Homo sapiens: one gene and its partner. The protein of the gene in region 1 interacts with the protein of each later gene in a pairwise test. Each region holds a gene or a part of one and is shown on either strand. Other genes may lie near its edges.

Region 1 (3,500 bases):
CCTGGGGTTCCTTTCCTGGAGCAGGCAGCACTGTACTGCGTGCAGGGCGGGTGAGACCGCCAGGGACACAACTGCAGAGGTGAAAGGCCGGCACTCCAAGGTCGCGGTCTGCGCTTCCGTGAAACACTTGTGGTCGAGCGAGGCCAGGCCGTGGTCTTGGTGTGGGAGTCACCAGGCTGGGTTTTCTTTTGTTTTTTGAGAGAGGGTCTCGCTGTGTCACCCAGGCTGGTATGCAGTGATGTAATCACAGCTCATTGTGGCCTCAACCTTCTGGGCTCAAGCAATCCTCCCGGCCCAGCCTCCCAAGTACCTGGGACTGTGGGTGTACTACCGTAGCCAGATAATGTTGCTTTTTTGCAAAGACAGAGTCTCGCTAAGTTGCCCAGGCTGGTCTTAACCTCCTAGGCTCAAGTGATCCTCCTGCCTTGGTCTCTCCAAGTGCTGGGATTACAGGAGTGAGTCCCTGCTATGATCCATGCTAGGGATGACCCCCCAGCCCAGGGCTGCAACCTCAGCCCACAGGGGACACTCAGCCAGAAGGCATCACCCAGGCCCTGATCCCAGGGCCTGCCCAGCGGCACTGCCCACACACACCTGGCGGGTCGTGGAAGAGGCTCACCACGCTCTTCTCCGGGGTGTTGAAGAAGGCCGCAGCCATGGAGTTGTACTCGCCATCTGCACAAAAGAGCTGTGGGGTCGGGAGAGAGCACACGTTGGGAGGGGAGATGAGCTGGTGGGCTGCAGGCACAAACCTGGTGTCGCCGTGAGAGGCCGTGTACCCTGTGCCTGGCCAGCATCAGGCGCGAAACCACACGATCCTGCCATTGGGTCAGGGCCACGGTCACAGAGGGCAAGGAGGACACACAAGGCCCAAGCCATGGTCACGGAGGGAAAGGAGGACACACACGGCCTAGGCCCAGCAGGGGGCCGTGTCTAGCCCTGGGGGGTGGGTTAGCAGGACCATGGGCTGAGACGCTGTCCATCCCTGGTGCCGGGGAAGGTGGGCCCAGGCGCTCACATGAGCTCCTAGAAGAGGCTGTTGGCGCCCCGGTGCCACAGGCCCAGAGCCTCCTGGGCTCCAGCAGCACAGGGGGTGTTATCCACGGGGCTGGAGCAGAGTGTAGCAAGGCTGGTCAACCCCATGGCCCCGGGCCTCCCACGTCTCTAACGGTTCACACCTGACCCGTCCCATCCTGCCCACTCCCGCCGTGGCACCCACTGGTCTGCTGGGCCTCTAGGCTCTCCCTGTTCTGGATGTTTCATGTTAATGGGGCTACGTCGCGTGACCTCACGTGTGGTTCCTCTGAGCGTAGTGCTTTCCAGGGCAACCGTGTCACAGTGCAGATGGACGCACGGACGGCGGTGAGCCGTGAGCGCCAGGCACAGGTCCAGTTGTGGACGGAGGTTTGCATTTCTCCTGGGTCCACATCTATGGTGCCCCCATAGGGCGCCTGAGGCTCGCCCCGTCAGGCTGCCATTCTGGGAAGAGGACTGGGGGGAGCCTCTGGCCCCCATACCACCGCCCATTCCCCTGGCACCTCAGCAGACACCTGGCCTCCTCTGAGATCTGGGTGGACAGGACTAACCCTCTTTGAGACACGCCAGCCCATGCGCTTCTGGAACTCGGCGGGGTGGGCAGCCCTCCTCCCGTAGCCTAAGCGAGCCTCCTGGAGGCCGCCCTGTGGCTGCCCTGCCTGCTGGACCCCGCCCGGGCCCAGCCTCCCACCTGCAGCGGGTAGGACATGGAGCCCCCCTGCAGGGGCTGGCAATCCCGCGACGAGTAGATCAGCACGAAGGCAACTGTGGCCGTGACGGCGGCCACCAGCACGGCCTCAATCACCTGCAGGCAGGGCCGGTGGATGTACCTGGAACCAAGAATCAGGCTGCATGGCAGGCAGGACGGCAGCGCGGCCCCTCCGCAGGCCCCATGGCAACTCGAGTCCCTGATGGAGGACACTGGGCCCGTGGTGCTTTTTGTTTGTTTGTTTTTGTTTTTGAGACGGAGTTTTGCTCTTGTTGCCCAGGCTGGAGTGCAGTGCTGCGATCTTGGCTCACTGCAACCTCCACCTCCCAGGTTCAAGCAATTGTCTTGCCTCAGCCTCCCGAGTAGCTGGGATTACAGGCGCCCGGCTCTACATCTGGCTAATTTTTTTTTGAATTTTTTAGTAGAGACGGGGTTTCTCCATGTTGGTCAAGCTGGTCTAGAACTCCCGACCTCAGGTGATCCACCCGCCTCGGCCTCCCAAAGTGCTGGGATTATAGTCGTGAGGCACCGCGCCCGGCCAGGCCTGTGTTTAATCATCAATCAGGCACCCAAATGTCCTGGGGTCGTCCTCTTCCCTGGGGTAAAGACTCCTCGGCAGCAACTTCTCCAGATGTGTGGGAAGTGGCGCTACCCGTGCCCCGGCTGTACCCGACAGTATTGAAATCAGCACAGACCAAGAAGGAAGAAGCCGGGGGGCCCCGGTGTCCCAGGACAGCTGCGGTTGCTACCAGGCAGAGCCAGGCGGTGAAGGTTGGGCATGCCTCGCCCAGGCCCGATCCCACGCAGGGCCTCACTTCCTACCCAGGGGCCGTCCTCCAGGAGCCCTCGCACTCCTAGCCTTGGGCTAGTCCGTCACCCTCCAGGCCCCGGGACACATCTCTGACCAGCTCCACCGGGGAAACCATCAGGAAGGACGCTGCATACACAGCCTTTCTTTCGGCTGTGGCCTAGGAGTGTAAACCCCATTCCACCACGTCCGCTTTCAAAGGGCCTGTGTGGCCACGCCTGCCAACGCGATATGCAATGCGGTTTCTCCTCACCTGATTCGAAACATGGTCAGCCAGTAGTTCAAGGCATTGAACACTGCTCCAAGCACACCGCCTGCGAACAGGGGAAAGGCCAGTCAGCGACACCGGAGGAAAAGTGCGGGCCTCCGCCCGCCGGCTCCCAGATGGCAGGAGAAGCTGGAGGGTTTGCAGAGGGAAGGGGACGGCAGGGGGCTAGGGGGTCCTGGTAAGATGCTTCCTCCACATCATCACACCCTGAGGGCTGGGGGAGCTGTTTCTCAAAGGCTCTGCCTTCCTTCCAGGGCAAAGGTGTCCAGCAGAGCAATAAATACTGGTGGGAGCAATTCTATCTCTTACAGGAAATCCCATCCATCCCTGCAGCCCTGTGGTTTTTGCCAACAGAGATAAACAACGGGAAGCCACAGAAGCGAAGCTTTGGGCTCCCCACTCCCCACGTGTACTGCCCATGGAAGAATCTGGAGGCCCCCGGGTGGCCCTGGGATGAGGGCAGGCTCCAGGGAGCCACAGCCTCCAGTCCTCGTCTCTATGGCCACGTCACAGCTGAGCCAGGCCCGCAGGCCGTCCCTGCGGTGCTGGGAGAAGCCCTTACCCACCACGCCCATGGCGATGAAGACCGGGATCTCGTGGATCGTGTAGGCCATTTTCTGTGCAGAGAGAGGGAGAAGGCAGAGGATGTGAGGGAAAAGGCCCACAGCTCCTTTCTGCTG
Region 2 (3,500 bases), on another chromosome or scaffold:
GCGACAGAGCAAGACTCTGTCTCAAAAAAAAAAAAAAAAAAAAAATTGGCTGGGTGCCGAGGCACATGCCCATAGTCCCAACTACTTGGGAGGCTGAGGTGGGAGGATCACTTGGGCCCAGGAGATGGAGGCTGCAATGAGCCCTGATCATGGCACTGCACTCCAGCCTGGGTGATAGAGCAAAACCCTGTCTCAAACATCAAACAAACAAACAAAACAGTGGCACAAGAAAGCAAGGCATGCATGGAGCAGCACAGTTGTTTGGTTTGAGGCCATCTGGCACAGGTAACTGCCTGGATTTAATCCTGGCTCACCAGGTACAGGCTGTGTGACCTTGGACAAGCCATTCAAGTTCTCTAAGCTTCAGATTACCCTCTGTCAAGTGGGGGAGAATAATAGTGCTTAAGTCATAAGATTGGTGTTAAGGGTTAAAGGAGGTGATCAGTATAACTCGCTGGCATGTAGGCAGTGCTCAATAAATGGTTATTATTATTTAGTAGTAATACTATTGCTGAATACAAAGAGTATTGGGGCAGATATGAAACAGGCAGAAAGGATGAAATTATGCAGGGTCTTCAATGGTGGCCTACTGAGTTTGGACTTTATCCTAGAAGTGGAGGAGAGCCAGTGAGTGAGTCTGGGGAAGACGCGATGGGGTTTTTGTTAGGAAGATCACTCTGGCTGCAAGGAGGAGGCTGGGTGAGGTTTGGGGAGAATGTAAGCAGAGCTGATTGGATGCTGGGGAGGATGGCGAGGAAGCTCTCATTTGCAACATCTGTTTCTGGCTCGGCCAACGGGGATGGGGAACATAGAGTGAGGAGCAGGTGTGCTGTGAGATGGCGAACCTTCAACAGAGCCTGAGACGCCCGCGGAACACCAGGAGAGTTCCAGTGGGGATTTGCAAATAGGGATCCGGCTCCCCCGCGGAGATGACGGGAATTTTAGCGCATCAGGCATAGCTGAGACTGTCTACGTGGTAAAACCATGCCTGAAAAGACCTTTGGAAAATCAGGAGGTTGCTGGAGCCCTTGGAGAGAGCTTTGGTGTCTGTGACATGTGGAAGTGGAAGCCAGATTGAGGAGGGGGTGCGAGGGAAGGGGTGAAGCAGCTGGCCAGCGTGTTCTCTCCTGCGGCCTGACTGAAGCAGGGAGGAGGCAACCAGGAACCCACAGCTGGAGAAGGACGCTGGGCAGGGGTGGGACAGTTTGCTGGGAAGGATGAGACTCCAGTGTGTGGGAGCCGATCAGTGGGAGGATGGAAGGTATGGGGGAGACGGAGGCCTCTGCAGAGGGAGAGGATAGCACAGGAGCCAGGGCTGAAGGGAACAGTGGCTCTGGACTGAGGCTAATGGGCCTGAAGGTAGGCCCCTTCCCCTGTGAAGGCGTCATTATCTGAGGAGCCGTGAGGGATGGGCAAGAAGCAGCAGCTTGGGAATGCCGCCTGAGGTCAGTGGAAATGAAGCTGAGGGCAAGACAGTTAGGGCCCCACTGTTCCAGCATTGTGGGAATTGCGGTGGAGTGTGTGTGTGTGTGTTTGTGCAGGGAGGGGTTCCTGGCAGAGTCAGGCACGGATGGATTTGGAGGTCCCTTGAAGAAACTTCCTTCAGGCCAGCCTGAAGTGTGAGAGACTCTGAGGGGGTGCAATGCATGCCAGCCATCCCCTCCTCGCAGCCCTGCCTCACCCCAAAACTTCAGGTGGGCCTGGGGCTGAGGTGCTTGGATGTTTGTCGTAAGAGCTTCTAACTCTGCCGCTCCACCCGGCTCTCAGTGGCTCAGGTCTGAGAGGCCTCAGCAGGGGCAAGGAGAGGAGGCAGTGAGGAGGGAAGGCTCTGGAGGAAGAGGGCGTGGCAGCGGGTCTTCGAGGCAATGCCAGGGAGGCCCAGGGCATGGGGGTGAGGAGCTAGAACTGAGCTCTGAGCCCTCCTCTGAGGTTGGGGCTTCTGGGCAGGCAGCCCCCTTAGAGGCCCTCCCTTGTAGGTATTCGGCCTTGGTTCCGTGGCCCATATGGTTCTAAATAAAAAATATGGGAGCTACCTTGGTGTCAACTTGGGTTTTGGCTTCGGAGTCACCATGGGAGTGCACGTGGCAGGCCGCATCTCTGGTGAGTGAGCCCAGGCCCTGCCGGACCGGGCAAGACCAGGTGTCCCCAACAGGCTCTTTCCTGCCCGCCTCAGCCAGCTTCTTTGCCAGCACAGCCAGTGCCTCAGCCTGGCCACCGGGCGGGAGGAAGTCTCCTCTGAACCCCGTGCCTATGACGTGTTTGCCCCAGATTCTTCCTGGGCCCCCCGACCTACCATTTTCACTGGCTGGGTCATCTTAGGCAAGCCATCGCCTCTGTGTTCCTCAGTTTCCTTGAGAGTGAAACGAAGATGGTGGCCCCTGCCTCACGGGGTGGTTGTGAGGGCTCAAGGAGAGAGCTCTGTCACGGAGCATGCTGTCATACACACTAGCCATCGTTGTTCTCATACTGTTTGTCACTGTTGTTTGTTCTGCTCTCACTCCCTGACACACTTGCCTGCTGCCCGCAGGAGCCCACATGAACGCAGCTGTGACCTTTGCTAACTGTGCGCTGGGCCGCGTGCCCTGGAGGAAGTTTCCGGTCTATGTGCTGGGGCAGTTCCTGGGCTCCTTCCTGGCGGCTGCCACCATCTACAGTCTCTTCTACAGTGAGTATCCTGCCCGGGTGTCCGCCTCTGGCCTCAGCCGCCTCCTATGAAATATGGGCAGATTGGACCTCAGTGTCCTGATTTGTAAAAAATAGCTGGGAGAAAAAAGCCTTGGAGATCCCCCACCCTCTAACCTATAACCTCATTTCTGGGACCCCGGTGGGGCTTAGTTGGGAGCAGGTTCGCATGACAGTCTGTGTCTCCGCAGCGGCCATTCTCCACTTTTCGGGTGGACAGCTGATGGTGACCGGTCCCGTCGCTACAGCTGGCATTTTTGCCACCTACCTTCCTGATCACATGACATTGTGGCGGGGCTTCCTGAATGAGGTCAGTGGTCGAGGATGAGTATCCCTCCCCCTGCCCTCCACCCCTCAGGACGGAGCCAGCAGGGAGTCCCTCCGGATAGACAGGACAAGAACTCTGGATGGAGACTGTACCGAGACGTGTCTCTGCTGGTGGGCTTGGGTCTGGGGCACTGCCGAGGTCCTGTGGCTTGGGGAGGGGCCCAGGTGAGCTGCCACAGCATCTGCTCCTCAGGCGTGGCTGACCGGGATGCTCCAGCTGTGTCTCTTCGCCATCACGGACCAGGAGAACAACCCAGCACTGCCAGGAACAGAGGCGCTGGTGATAGGCATCCTCGTGGTCATCATCGGGGTGTCCCTTGGCATGAACACAGGATATGCCATCAACCCGTCCCGGGACCTGCCCCCCCGCATCTTCACCTTCATTGCTGGTTGGGGCAAACAGGTCTTCAGGTACTGCCCCTGCCCAGGCCCATTCCTTTGAGTTTTTCTGTGGGTCCCCTGTGTGTTGAGGGGTGGGGGGTGATGTGAGG

What was found. The genes of interacting proteins can lie anywhere in the genome.
Region 2: the proteins of CLCN7 (region 1) and AQP7 interact in a two-hybrid assay, tested with the Homo sapiens proteins (one large-scale study listed by BioGRID).

The regions. Positions count from the first base shown.
Region 1 is NC_000016.10:1,451,029-1,454,528, forward strand, and holds part of CLCN7 (H(+)/Cl(-) exchange transporter 7), read right to left. Parts: intron 3,438-3,500; coding exon 3,383-3,437; intron 2,867-3,382; coding exon 2,806-2,866; intron 1,866-2,805; coding exon 1,727-1,865; intron 689-1,726; coding exon 595-688; intron 1-594. UniProt on the Homo sapiens protein: Slowly voltage-gated channel mediating the exchange of chloride ions against protons. Functions as antiporter and contributes to the acidification of the lysosome lumen and may be involved in maintaining lysosomal pH.
Region 2 is NC_000009.12:33,385,569-33,389,068, reverse strand, and holds part of AQP7 (aquaporin-7), read left to right. Parts: intron 1-1,976; coding exon 1,977-2,100; intron 2,101-2,527; coding exon 2,528-2,665; intron 2,666-2,873; coding exon 2,874-2,992; intron 2,993-3,202; coding exon 3,203-3,420; coding exon of another isoform or gene 3,421-3,451; exon of another isoform or gene 3,452-3,500. UniProt on the Homo sapiens protein: Aquaglyceroporins form homotetrameric transmembrane channels, with each monomer independently mediating glycerol and water transport across the plasma membrane along their osmotic gradient. Could also be permeable to urea.